Regions from separate parts of the Homo sapiens genome. Here all the other regions are linked to region 2. Evidence: fine-mapped expression QTL. A gene starts in region 2. Each other region holds a variant in brackets. All regions are shown on one strand. Distances are between the middles of the regions.

Region 1 (4,238 bases), 130 kb before region 2:
AGCAGAAATCTGTGTTAGACACTGAAAAAAAATACTGTTCATCATTTGATGTATTGAGTCACTGCCATTTTTAAACAGCATCTCTGCCCTAAACTTTTCCAATTAAAATTACCAAGATAATGAAGCCAAATTACCACTGTGAGACACTAATTTGCTGTACAAATTTGGGCAGTGAACAAGCACTGCTCCGTTAGAGATGTATCTGCTTAGTTTATTTAATTATCATTTGGACCAAAAACATCTAATAGAGAGAACATCCCAAATCCACCAGAAGCTTGTATGTTTCAGAACTATTAACCTTCTATTCTAAGGCCTTGCAAAGAATTTAGCAAAAATAAATTTCATTCCTATGGAGAAAAACTTGAGGATATTTTCTTGAAAAAAGACAAAAACTAATGTGGTCCACACACATATAAGGAGACATGGCTTCATCAGGGATTCTTCTGCCTCCATGCCTGTAACCTCCATGAAACCTTTCTGGGTAGCCACACTCTCCAGGCTTGCCATGCCATTCAATCCCACCTAAAGTCCCACTAAAACACTGAATTTGTGAATAAAATTATATCTGACATGCAGTCTTCCCTGAAGTCTCTCAGGTTTTCCCCAGTCCTAAGGCCCAAGCAACATTAATTCATTTGCAGTAGCACAGACTATAGGTAGGCAAATTGTACAAAAGGTCAAATCTCTGCACTTGGCATTACCTTCAACAGAGATCCCTTAAAAATATCGATAGTTTCTGAATTATCTCTATTATCTATTATATAGAGATGAGGTATAAGACATCTTGTTTGTCCTCAAGCATCAGACAGAGGAAGCACATAATGTTTTTAAGAAGAAAAAACTACTCAGTGATACTTTTAAAAGCATAGTAGGGCAGACTTTATTCAGGACCATCTTAACACATATAGGGACCAATGCAGTAGGATTTTGCAGTTAGGGAAAGAGTTGATTGAGCTCAACTCCAAATACCGCATGGGGAAGTGGGAATTTATAGCCAAGGAACAGGGTAGGTATCGGTGCATGAAAAATTACTAAGAGGCAACATCAGGGGTAGGAAGGCAATTCTTGTTAAAGACAGGTCAGGGTGACCAGATGTCACCTGGAAGATGGTGGAGGATGAGGAATCTAATCAGATTTGGGTGGGGGTGGGGAGGCGTTCTTGCTAAACTTAGTAGCATGCTTCTTAGCTAAACCTGGATTTTACAAGAAAATGTGTGCGCACACACACACACAGACCTAGGAGAAAGTTCAGGAGCATGACTACAGTGTAGCCAAGCAAAGTTTTTTTGTTTTGTTTTGTTTTGTTTTTTTTTTTGGTCAATATACCCACTAATTCAGGGGAAAAGGACAAATGACGTACCTGATAATAAAGAAAAAGTAAAACACTGTGCATACTTTTTGGGAAGAGTAATTCCAATCAGGATAACCCAGTATGACAGGCAGTGTGGGAACTATGATTTGAAGGAAGAGAAGAAATGTGACAAAGAGATACAGCAGTGAGGGAGGGCAAAGAAGGAAGGACGGACATTCCAGGAACTTCCCCAAATACTGATAAACAGGTCAAATTCCTTGGCACAGGAAATTACTTCATACCAAAAAGGTTCCTGAGTTCCAGCTAATTAATGGATTGTAAACAATGTTGTCCTAAACCAGAAAATTCTGCAACAATAAAAGATTTTGGACACTCACAAATTCATAGCACCGTTTCTAACATTCAGAGCCTTTAAGG[G/A]TGCCCTCCTAATTTTACCCGCACATAAACCTCAAAGATCTACTAAATGAGTCAGCATAGGTGATCTCAAGTAATACAAATATTACCAGGAAATCAGAGAAACAGATACCATTTCACAGCCCTAGGCACATTTTTGATAGATTCTGAATATGTTTACATGTAATTGAGAAGAATCCTTACACTGGCATATGATCAACTGGGCCCCAAATTATCCGCCTTTTGTAAACACTCCACAAACCTTAAAAAAAAAAAATCCAAGAATTTTTAAAACTCAAGGTATCAGCATTTTAGAAAGGCTTTCCTCACATGTGAATCATAACCTCTCAAAGTTCTGTTTTGTTTTTTTTGGGTAATGTTAAGTGTAAAACACATTGATAGAGGGAAGCCAAAATACTTCCAAAGTATAATAGGAATAATCCAAAGTCTGTTTCCCCCACCCCCCTTTACAAGTCTGAGTTTTCACAAACAAACTTTATAGCTGTTCAAATGCTAGATGATGTAATCAAATGAAATACATCAGTATATACTAGGTAGTAATAAATAGACTATTGTCAGATGACATTTGCCTACATCCATAACCTTTAAACACACCACGTATGAGTTTGGATTACAGTCATGTGTCACTTAATGATGAGGATACATTCTGAGACAGGCGTCATTAGGTGATTTTGTCATTGTGCGAACATCCTCAAGTGTACTTCACAAATCAAGGTGGCATAGCCTACTATATACCTAGGCTATATGGCATAGCCTATTGCTCCTAGGCTACAAACCTGTACAGCACGTTACTATACTGAATGCAGTAGGCAACTATTAATGTAGTGGCAAGTATCTGCATATCTAAACATAGAAAAGGTACAGTAAAAACACAGTATTATAACCTCATGGGACCACCATCATACATGCAGTTTGTCATTGATCAAAAGAAACATCATTAGTCGGTGCCATAACTGTATAGTGCTCCTTAATTCATCAGCAAGAAAACAACAAAATTGCTGGTTAACATCAGTACTGATAACAAAATCTTTAATCTTTATAAAAATCTAGCCTGGTAGTCCAAACAGGATGAATCTATTAAAACCATACTTTTTCCTTAAATTAAAAAAAAAAAAAGATTTATTTCTTCTAGAAGATACTGCGACAAAGAAAAAACATTGTCCCAGAAGATTTCTCATGGGCACTAGTTTTGCTTATTTTCAATGCAGGTACTACATATATAACCAAGGCAGCTCCTTCATTGCCTGTTTACCTGGGGATTTTTTGTTCACTCTTGATTGCACCAAGTGAGACTGTCGAGGCAGCAAAGGTGAGGAAGGCAGAGACATCGAGACACCTTTGGCCAAGCTCACCCTATAGGTGTCCTCTGCTGTGGGAAGACTGCTCACAGGAGAGTCAGCACTGTGGTCAAGGTGCAGGACTGGAGAAGTCTCTGGACCAAAGTCACTTCCTAGAGTAGAGAGAGAATACTTAGGTTAAACCATCCATTCATTATAAGTTGATGCAAATTTAACTCCTATAAACTATATTCTCAGAATATAATTCCCACATATCAGATGTGTGTATTGAATTTTTTTAAATGACTTTTCCCCCACTACTCTTGAAACTTTTTACCCTGTGAGGGAAAACTCAAGCATCAGTGAACTCTGCTCCATGTGCCTTTCTGCACTACCCTAACTGATCTGGTTTCAATCCCTAACAAAGGATCCAGGAAGCCACTGATCTGGGATTAGATCAAGGTCAAGTATGAATGATCCACAAGAAGCTTTGATCTCAGAAAAGGAAAAGGAGAGGGCTTACTAGCCTTACATGAGTATCAGTAAAACAGATTCAGATACCAACCCTTCCAGAACTCCCAGGCCTCCACTGCTCCTCTCTAATAAGAAAAGACTAAGTGAGAGTGTAGTCTACATCCACATTCCTCCCCAGCACCATCCCTTGGCTCCCATCCCATCTACTCAACACTCCCCATGACACAGGGCCACCCTCCTAAAACTCAAACAGCCCCAAACCAGTCATGGGACTGGAAACATTGCTCACTTATTAGGCAGCTTCCGCTTGACACTCCACCCCTAAACAAGCTTGGGAACAAACAAGCTTACTATTAGGAAATTAAACATTGTTAAATATGGTAAACCCCAAGTTTCTCCTCAAAAAAACCAGTATGTCAGTATGTTCAGCTCTTATTCTTTGATTCTCCATTTTAAAGTTTAACTTCCTGGTTCTCTTTGGCTTCTCGCTTCTAGTTTCAGTCAACAACTTTCCCGCCAATCCTAATTAGTAGTTCACGTCTGTTCCCTGGTTACCTGCTCTGTCCTGACTCATCCCGGTCACCTGCTCTGACCTAAGTCACCTTTAGTTACCTGTTCCTCACCGTCCTTCCCACCAAACCCCGCCATTCTGGCTCATGCCCCTGCCCTCTTTAAAACAGTCAGTCAGAACTAGCTTAGACTGTGTGGTCCAACCCTAGCCAATAGGGGAACAACACAGCAGCAGGGGCTACCTGCGTCAG
Region 2 (4,238 bases):
CTCACCTTAAATTTATTTGTGGACTTTTCCTGCTTCCACTAAAATCGATGACACTATTTCCCATCTCTTATTGTCAAATCACAACAGTCCGGAAGCCTGAACCAAGTTCACTTGGCAGGTAACAGGAACAACCCTAGGAGGAAGTCCTGAAGGATATCAGATACCATACTTCCTTTACTGCCACATACTTTTCATTTCAGAACCACCAGGATATATTTATGATGCTTTTTGACTAACACTCACCAAGCATTCTGGCTGACACAAACTGCAGAAACTGGCATACTCTAGGGAAGGTCCCTTGTGAGGTCTTTAAGTAGCTTAGATGAGTAAAACACTCAGACTACTTCTATAATGAAGTAGTCTCAGCCGCTCATAAACTCCTTCATTCCCAGCAATCAAGAAGCAGCTGTTAAAATCCTGGAATCTTCCTAGTAGCAGATCTGAAATACCTCCAGGCTGACCCAGGAAGCTTCACAACTGCTTTCCTCTCCTTCCCCTCCCCTGCCTCAGGAGTGCCAGCCTGGCAGGAATAAAGATGACCAAGGAAGGAAAAAAGAGGGTAGCGGATCTGGTGAAAGCAGAGACGCAGACTCCCTTCATTTCCACTACAGAGAAATACCAGCCCTCTGTGCCAACTAACCAGGTTTCTCCTTTCCTCTCCCACCCCCACCCCTCCAAACACGCATTAACTTCTGCAGTCTGGTGTGTCTGGCATTTCCAGAGCGAGCGATCTCAGCAATCTTGAGCCCTTTCCTCAAAGATTCTGAACCAGGAACTTCCTTTCCGCGCCAGCCAGAGTTTGCGGTCCAACCCACGTTAAGACTCAGCTTCCATTTACCTTGTAACCTGTACGGACGACGCTGCTTCTGGGGTCAAGTTCAAGATGAAAGTTCCCTCCTCACCTCCCAAGTTAACTCCAGCAGGGAACAACGCCACTGAGAACGGTCCCAACACTGGAGGCACGCGGATCTGGAGCTGGCAGGAGGGGGCTGGGAGAAGGCCGTTGCCGAGCCTGGCGTCCTCCGCCCCTTGGCCGCAGCGCCGCGTTTCTACCTGGCCAACGCCACATTTCCTCCCGGAGCTTTACACAATAAGTCCAGTAAGTTTTGAGAACACCGGTCCAGGGACCTTTCTGTCTGCAAACACACCACACAATGCCTAGAGCTTCCTTCCCAGCCAGGCGTTCCGGAAAGCCGCCGCGCCAAAGCCGGGAGCCCCGCACACCCACAGCGCTGCGCGCCCGCACCCCAAAGTCCTCCAGGAAGCCAGTGCCCTGATATCGTCCCCCGAAAATGACCACTCTGCATCCAAGAACAAGGGGGCTCACAATCTTGACAATTACCGCTCTTCTCAGCGCCCCACCCCTAAAGAAAAACCCCCAACGTCTAATCCTAACTCACCCCCACCCCCAATAAAGGAGTGTGGATATGCTAATCGCAGTGTTCTTGGAAGCAAAGCAATAGACTTTCAGCCCAGACTGGGGCAATACCATGCCTCCGGCTTAAGTTCTCTCGGCAACTTCGCGACCCGCGCACCCCAACACTCCGGGGGGCGCCCAGGACCCCGCGGTGCCAGGCGCGCCTCCCCCCGCCTCCCCCGCGCCAGGTACCAGGCGTAGCCCAGGCCCTTGCCAAGCCCGAGGGCTACAGAGAAGGCGGGAAAGGGGGCGAGCGGGCGCGCCGGGCGGGGGTGGTCCCAGAACTCGAGCGTGCCCCAAGCGTTCCCGGTTCCCACCACACCGGTTCCAGGGGAGGCCGGCTCGGTCCGGCGCGGGGGAACCGCGCAAGGAAGGTGCGGACTCCCCAAAGCCGCCGAGAGACCAAGGCCCGGGGCGCCCAACATGTCTGTGCCTATTCCCGGAAAGCTCCCGGGTGTGCCCGGCGGAGGAGGGGGCGCTCCAGAAACTTTCCCACACGCCTTTCCCTTCTCCCATCACCCTCTCCACCCCGGGTCCCTCTCGACCTCTCCGCACACTGGCAGCTGGCCATGCCCGGGGCGCTCGCAGGCCCGCGGCGGAGTCCGGGCTGCGGGAGTTACCTGCCGGGAAAGTTTCCAGCTCCTCAGCGCGGTTCCCCACACCCAGGGCCGGGCCTCGGGGCGAGGCCAGCTCGGCGCTCCGCGGCTGCCTCTCCTCCGGCTCCCGAGGCGGCCGCCGCTCCAGCAGCTGCCACAGCAAAGCCTCCGCTCCGGCCCGTCCCCCCGCCTTGCTCGGCCCACACCGGGGCCTCATTGGCAGCGCGAATCCCCGCCCTTGCGCGTGTTCCCGAAGGCACCTTCCTCTCGCGCGCCCGCCCCGGCCGCGCCTCCCGCGCCCCTCCCCGCCCCGGGCTGCGGCGGATCCAGGGACCGGCTGGAGCGCGGAGCGCGAACTTTCCGCGGGGCTTGGGCGCGAGGTCCCCTTGTCCCGCCTCTCGGCGCCAGGTCCGGGCCTGAAGCACCCTACCATCCCTCTGGGCACCGGGTCCCCCGGGGCTGCGCCTAGGCCCCTCTGGGACCAAAATGAGATGGGCCATAGTCTTTTTTACAGCCTCTTCAAAATCAATAAAGCGACCCGGCCTTCCCTCCTCGCTGCTTTTTTACCACAGCCGAGGAGGACATATGGGAGCAATTAACCGAGCTGGAGTTTCCGTGGACGCTTTGGGGTGGCTTGTGCGGCTTTCTTGGATTTTCTCTGCCTCACTTAACTACACACAAACACAAACACACTTTCTGGGGCCAGAATCAGCTAAATGAGCTGGAAGGTCTAAGAAGGCATCTCACCGGCTGCGTCTTTTTATTTCCCAAAAGGAATGGGGGACGTTCTGGGGCCGGTGATTTCCCGGGCGTCCCTGGGGCCGCGGGTCTGGAGCCTCCTGCGACCGCTCCGGGCTGGCCCGTGCTGTCTGCGCTACATTCACAGAGGGCCAGCGTCGTGCTTCTGTCGGAAGGAGGTGGGAGGGACGGAGGGGAGAGAACACACAAAGATGCTATTATTTTGTCGGTTGGTGGCAGTAAATTAAACTCCTGAGTTCCCAAAATGTTTTGTTATTCTCCAGCAGAGCAAAAACCAGGATAGGGACTAGGGATTCGGGTGTCCTGGGTTCTCCAAGATCCTCCCAGGAATCCCAGGCAGCCAAATTGGCCTAAGGGACTCTGCTCACTTAATACCCGAAGCTCTCTAAGACAGCCTTCGTTGATCTAGTTGACGAAGGAAGGATCAACTAGAACTGCCGCTGCCTTGTGTGGCCAGCGGGAATTGTGCACGGGTCACCCCATTGGTGTGTCTGGAGCAGAGAATAGAGAAGTTGCTGTAAACCGATTTATTGGTAACCCCTAACCTTGCTGTGGCAAACCCGCCTTAAAATACGATTGTGTTTTAAACAAGTTTCCTCATAAAAACTTCAACCTCACGCAGAGCTTCCCTATATAAAGACACCAGCAGGAGGGGTGTCCATATTTAAAGTTCTTATGAAAAGGGACAGGAAGCAAAATGCCACACAATCTCTTTTCATAAATTAAAAAGACTGAAATGGACTGGATTTTTCACCCATAGTTTCAAAGGCCTGATTACTGCTGTGTTGATATTTGAGCAGTAAACACATCAGCGGCCTTGAAGTATTCCCGAAACAAGGCAGGATAGAATATTGAAAATAAAAATACAAACTTAAACCAGAAAACTATTGACTTCTTTCTCCATCTGAAATGTTTCATTGCTGAAAAATATGGTAATGTTTTATTTAATTTATCTTGAAACGAAATCTTTCAACAGACAAAAAAGCCAGACAGCAACCTTAATGATAAAAGAATGATGCAAACAAAAGACAAAAACTCCAAGCAGTCTAACTAATCTGAAATATTAAAATATAAGAGAAACAATCCTAAGAAAATAGACTGGTAAGATTTCCTGCTCCAGACTTCTTTATAATGGGAGAAAGGTATAATGGATGAAATTTATCATTTGTACCACATTTTTCTGGTTTTGGCTCTTCTCAGCTGTATTTCCAAATTTTTGATGAAATTGCTTAGTTAAATAGGGCTTTGAAGGCAGTGCAATTTTTTTCCCTCTACTCTCAAAGCTCCTTAAGTAGCAAGTAGAAAATCACATAAATATGTTCATTACTGACATCATCTTTAAATTATTTTTAGTTGAAAAAGTTTTGTCTTTATAGTTTCAGAAGTCACAGTCACTAAAGAAGTAACTTCATCACTGCCTAGTTAGGAGTATTTAACATTCTAAACAGGCATACAGCTAGCAATCT
Region 3 (4,238 bases), 88 kb before region 2:
CTAGTCTGGTTTTTCTTAATTTGCATAGCTGGAAAATATGACATTAAACTATAATTTATTCTCTAAGACACATAGATCCAGTCATTCATTCTTTATTCAACAACCCATTCTACAAGCTGAACTCTATTCTACTATTCTATTCTTTATAGTTTTGTCCTAAGCAAAAACACTTCAGATTTAAGTATAAGTTATTAAAAAGCATAGTAAATTTACAGTCACAAGTAATATGAATTTAAAAGAGTTCTGGGCATGAAATTGGAAATCAAATGCTTAAGTTCTGATGCACCAAAATTAAGTGGAAACTATTGTGGTGAAATCACCTTCCACCTATATTTAAAATATTCTGTACATTCATACAGGTTGTTTCAGGAAGAGTTTCTACCAAAACAAACAAACAAACAAACAAACAAAACACCTTACCTTAGCCAGTATTTCAAGTTACTAGAAAATTAGTATTTTGATAAGTACTTGGCAGAAAGAAAATTTCACTTTTGGAGGAGACGATAAAGAAGTTGCTTCCTTCTAAGTACAAGAGCCATCTTCATATACCTGTAAAGGGATTTGTTCAATCCAAATTCTAACACCATTTCTTCCATAAAGCCTTCTCAGGCCACAATGGTCAAAAGATATGTTTTCTCTAATTCTACATCCTGCCTTGTTCTAATATGATGATAGATCAAAATTATGGTGAAAAATGTTGAACTCCACAAATCCCCCATGGCATCTAGCAATGTACCTTACACACAACAAACACTAAAAAAAAAGTCTTTAAATGAGTGGCAGGGTTATTATGGAAGGGAAATCAAAATCAACGGCAATTCTCTTCCAACAAGGAGTTTGGACTAATAATTTAAGAATTCTGGTACCAAGTACTAATTCCCAACTTTATGGTCAAAATAATTTGGTGTATACATGAAGAAGTGCACATTTAACACAGTAAGATCTGTTCAAATAACAGGCTTTCAGAAGCACTGGCTGCAGGTAGGTTTTATTTGGGTATTTCAAATAGGCACACAGAAGGGATAAGTGCAAAGACAGTAGCCAAAAATCTGAAATCAATACACTCTCCTTCAAAAAAAGGAAGGGTTCAGAAAGGGCAGCATTTCCAGCAATAATCATGATGTCTCCCAGGCCAATGGCTACTGTGCAAGGCAGAGCTCAGTCTTGCAGAGAGCTCCTGCTCACTTACAGGCAGGAGTTCCCTGTCTTCATTTCCCTGTCACCTGAGTGCTCCCTAGCTGAGACTTACCTCCCTACCACAGCAGCAAAACACGGCTAACTAGAAGACAAAACTCCAATATTGTCACTAGTACTGTATATCATCCAGGTATTTACATAGATGTTTAGATATATTAGAGAAAGCAAAAGAATTTCATAAGCCCACCCACTTCAAAACACACCACAGAATCACCTCATCTTCGAAGCCTTCTTCATCTTATTTTAATTGTTTATACACCTGCTTCCTTCACCAGGCTTTGGGCCTCTGAATGGTCAGACCCTGCCTTGCTCCCCACCCCAGCAAAGTATTTGTTTTCCAATTTCAACATCAATGAATGGTTGTGGAGAAACATAATTTTAATCTATAATTTTCAAAGGGAATTATTGTACCTAAAAACAGACTGTTATCCTTTAATAACTTTAAGTAAAATTAATATCCTTCTACAGGCTATGAGCAATGGAGAAACTTGCCCTGGCTCTCCTGGACCAGCAAGTGGCAGAAATTGGGTTACAACCTAATTTTCCAATTAAGGAATGAGTGTTGGGTTAGCAATTGCAGGTTTTCATTCGACATACAT[C/T]TGTACGTTGCTACCCTGTGCCAAACAACAAGGGACACAAAGGCAAGTACAACTGACAGAGGAGGAAGACAACATGTGGACAAACATGAGCAGGAAGCTAAAAACATTCATGCCTCCATTTTGTCTACAAGGTAAAAACAAGGTAAGAGGTGCAGTGAAGGTTCAGGATAGCCCTGTAGATGAGAGGAAGGCAAGTAAGAGATTAAAAGGACAGCTGGCTGGGCATGGTGGCTCACGCCTGTAATCCCAGCACTTTGGGAGGATCGTTTGAGCCCAGGCCTTTGAGACCAGCCTGGGCAACAGAAGGAGATTCTCAGAAAAACCAAAAACAATAAAACGGACAGCTGAACAGCTCTGATCATCCAAACTAGGCTGCAGACCAGGCCATAACACCCGATTATGAAACTGCTCCTATCCTCAAAGGCTCACAAGTAGCATCATCATATCGTGCAACTCATCTATGGTTCTGGGTTAGTGGAATATTTGCGGGCTGGCACACACCATTTGCCTGCTCCTGTAGTTCACGGATATGTCCTATGAGGAGAAATGGTACACATGCCAGGAAACTCCTATGATTGAAGCCAATGGCTGGATGTGATATTCAAGCTAGACCTGGACTTTCCTAATCTGCCCAACTTCATGGACGGGAAGAACAAGGTCACCCAGAGCAATGCCATCTTGTGCTACACTGCTGGCAAGCACATGTGTGGTAAGACTGAAAAGATTCAAGTGGACATTTTAGAGAACCAAGCAACCAGTTTCTGCACACAACTGATACAGTGCTGTTACAACTCTGACCATGAAAAACTGAAACCTGGCCAGGCGCAGTGGCTCACGCCTCTAATCCCAGCACTTTGGGAGGCTTCTCTTTTCTCGTGGATCACAAGTTCAGGGGATCAAGACCATCCTGGCTAATACGGCGAAACCCCGTCTCTACTGAAAATACAAAAAGTTAGCTGGGCGTGGTGGCGGGCGCCTGTAGTCTCAGCTACTCAGGAGGCTGAGGCAGGAGAATAGCTTGAACCCGGGAGGCGGAGGTTGCAGTGAGCCGAGATCGCACCATTGCACTCCAGCCTGGGCGACAGAGCAAGACTCCATCTCAAAAAAAAAAATAAATAAATAAAATAAATAAAAACCAACCCTGAAACCTCAGTACTTGGAACAGCTACCTGAACAACTGAAACAATTCTCCATGTTCCTGGGAGAAATTCTCATGGTTTGCAGGGGAAAGCTCACCTTTGTGGATTTTCCCATCTATGACGTCCTGGATCAAAAGTGCATGTTTGAGCCCAAGTGCCTGGATGAGTTCCCACATCTTAAGGCTTTCATGTGCCGTTGAGGCTTTGGAGAAAATTGCTGCCTACATGCAGTCTGACTGCTTCTTGAAGATGCCTATCAACAACAAGATGGCCCAGTGGGGCAACAAGCTTTTATGCTGAGCTAGAGGCAGACTTGCACTGCTAGTTTTGTTTCATCCGTCCCTAGGGGGCCTCCACTCTTTTTTGTTCTTTTAAATAAACAGCACTTGGGCTAAAATAAATAAATAAATAAATAAATAAGCTATGCTGTGCAATTCCCTTCTCTGACTCTCAGCCCCAAGAACCATCCAGGGATGGTCCAGAGAATGCAGGATCTGATCAATGATCAGGAGTTCACAGTGCAGGGGCCAGTACAGGAGTGCTCAGAGTGGTGTGCTGTGAAATCAAGGCTGGTCAGGAAGGGAATGAAGCCCTGAGAGGTAGGATAGCCAGAGAGAAAAAGTATGGTGTCTCAAAGAGATCAAAGAACAAACACAGTCGGAATAAATGAATGAGGAAGTTGAAAGAGTCTGGTTCTTTTTAAAGAATTTTTAAAATTTGGATGTGGAACAATTCCAGACAATGATAAAGCCCACAGGATTAGTAAAGGCAAATCTGTGATGTGAACCCAGGCCTGACTTGAAAGCTCAGGCACTGAATAGCTGCCTCCAAAGTCCTCAATGAACTGAGGGTAGGGGGAATAGGGAGGTGATCAGGACAGCACAGAATACACGCCTCAAAGAAAGGGAGGCTTTGCATGAGGATGAAAGTGTAGCAGTTATGGATACCAGCATCACCTCAGGGACCCAGTAGCCATGCAGCTAAAAAGCTCCTGGAGAACCACCTAGGGTTTGAGTATGAACCACAGTCTGATCGTGGTCTCCTCCTCTCACATAACTCAGTAGAAGGCGTGGCTAGGGCCATAGAGTCTTTCTTTGTGTAAGGTTTAGGGCAACCGGAAACCCAAGTCCCAATCCTCCTTATGACAGTTAGCTCCACAACAACCACACTCAGAATTACATTCTCTTTTCCTTTCTCCTTCCTGTTGTTTCCCACTTGTGTCATACAACAGAGCTACAATCCCCAACTTACACTGCCCACCTTCCTGATGTGCAATCGCAACTCCCAGAATACAGGTAGAGGC

Which allele goes with the higher level. Alleles are on the strand shown, and positions count from the first base shown. SD is a standard deviation of normalised expression in the study named. Not every link is listed here.
As copies of C replace T in region 3, the expression in tibial artery of the gene that starts at base 2,180 in region 2 goes up (small effect, 0.21 SD a copy in GTEx).

What was found.
Region 1: its variant is fine-mapped to the expression of TANC1 in lung (TOPMed, PIP above 0.99).
Region 3: its variant is fine-mapped to the expression of TANC1 in tibial artery (GTEx, PIP above 0.99). The same link has a PIP of 0.9 or more in testis.

What each region holds. Positions count from the first base shown.
Region 1 is chr2:159,096,575-159,100,812 of GRCh38, reverse strand. TANC1 (tetratricopeptide repeat, ankyrin repeat and coiled-coil containing 1) reads right to left here. Exons shown (of 27, transcript NM_033394.3): 4 at 2,979-3,176. Among named protein-coding and RNA genes, the nearest start is that of MIR6888, 88 kb to the left of the region's middle. The variant G/A (reference allele first, on the strand shown) is at 1,730.
Region 2 is chr2:158,966,582-158,970,819 of GRCh38, reverse strand. It overlaps TANC1 (tetratricopeptide repeat, ankyrin repeat and coiled-coil containing 1), which reads right to left and starts at 2,180. Exons shown (of 27, transcript NM_033394.3): 1 at 2,038-2,180. RefSeq lists silencers at 2,145-2,224, 2,285-2,394.
Region 3 is chr2:159,054,989-159,059,226 of GRCh38, reverse strand. All of the region lies in intron 2 of TANC1 (tetratricopeptide repeat, ankyrin repeat and coiled-coil containing 1), which reads right to left. It also overlaps the pseudogene GSTM3P2. Among named protein-coding and RNA genes, the nearest start is that of TANC1, 88 kb to the right of the region's middle. The variant C/T (reference allele first, on the strand shown) is at 1,797.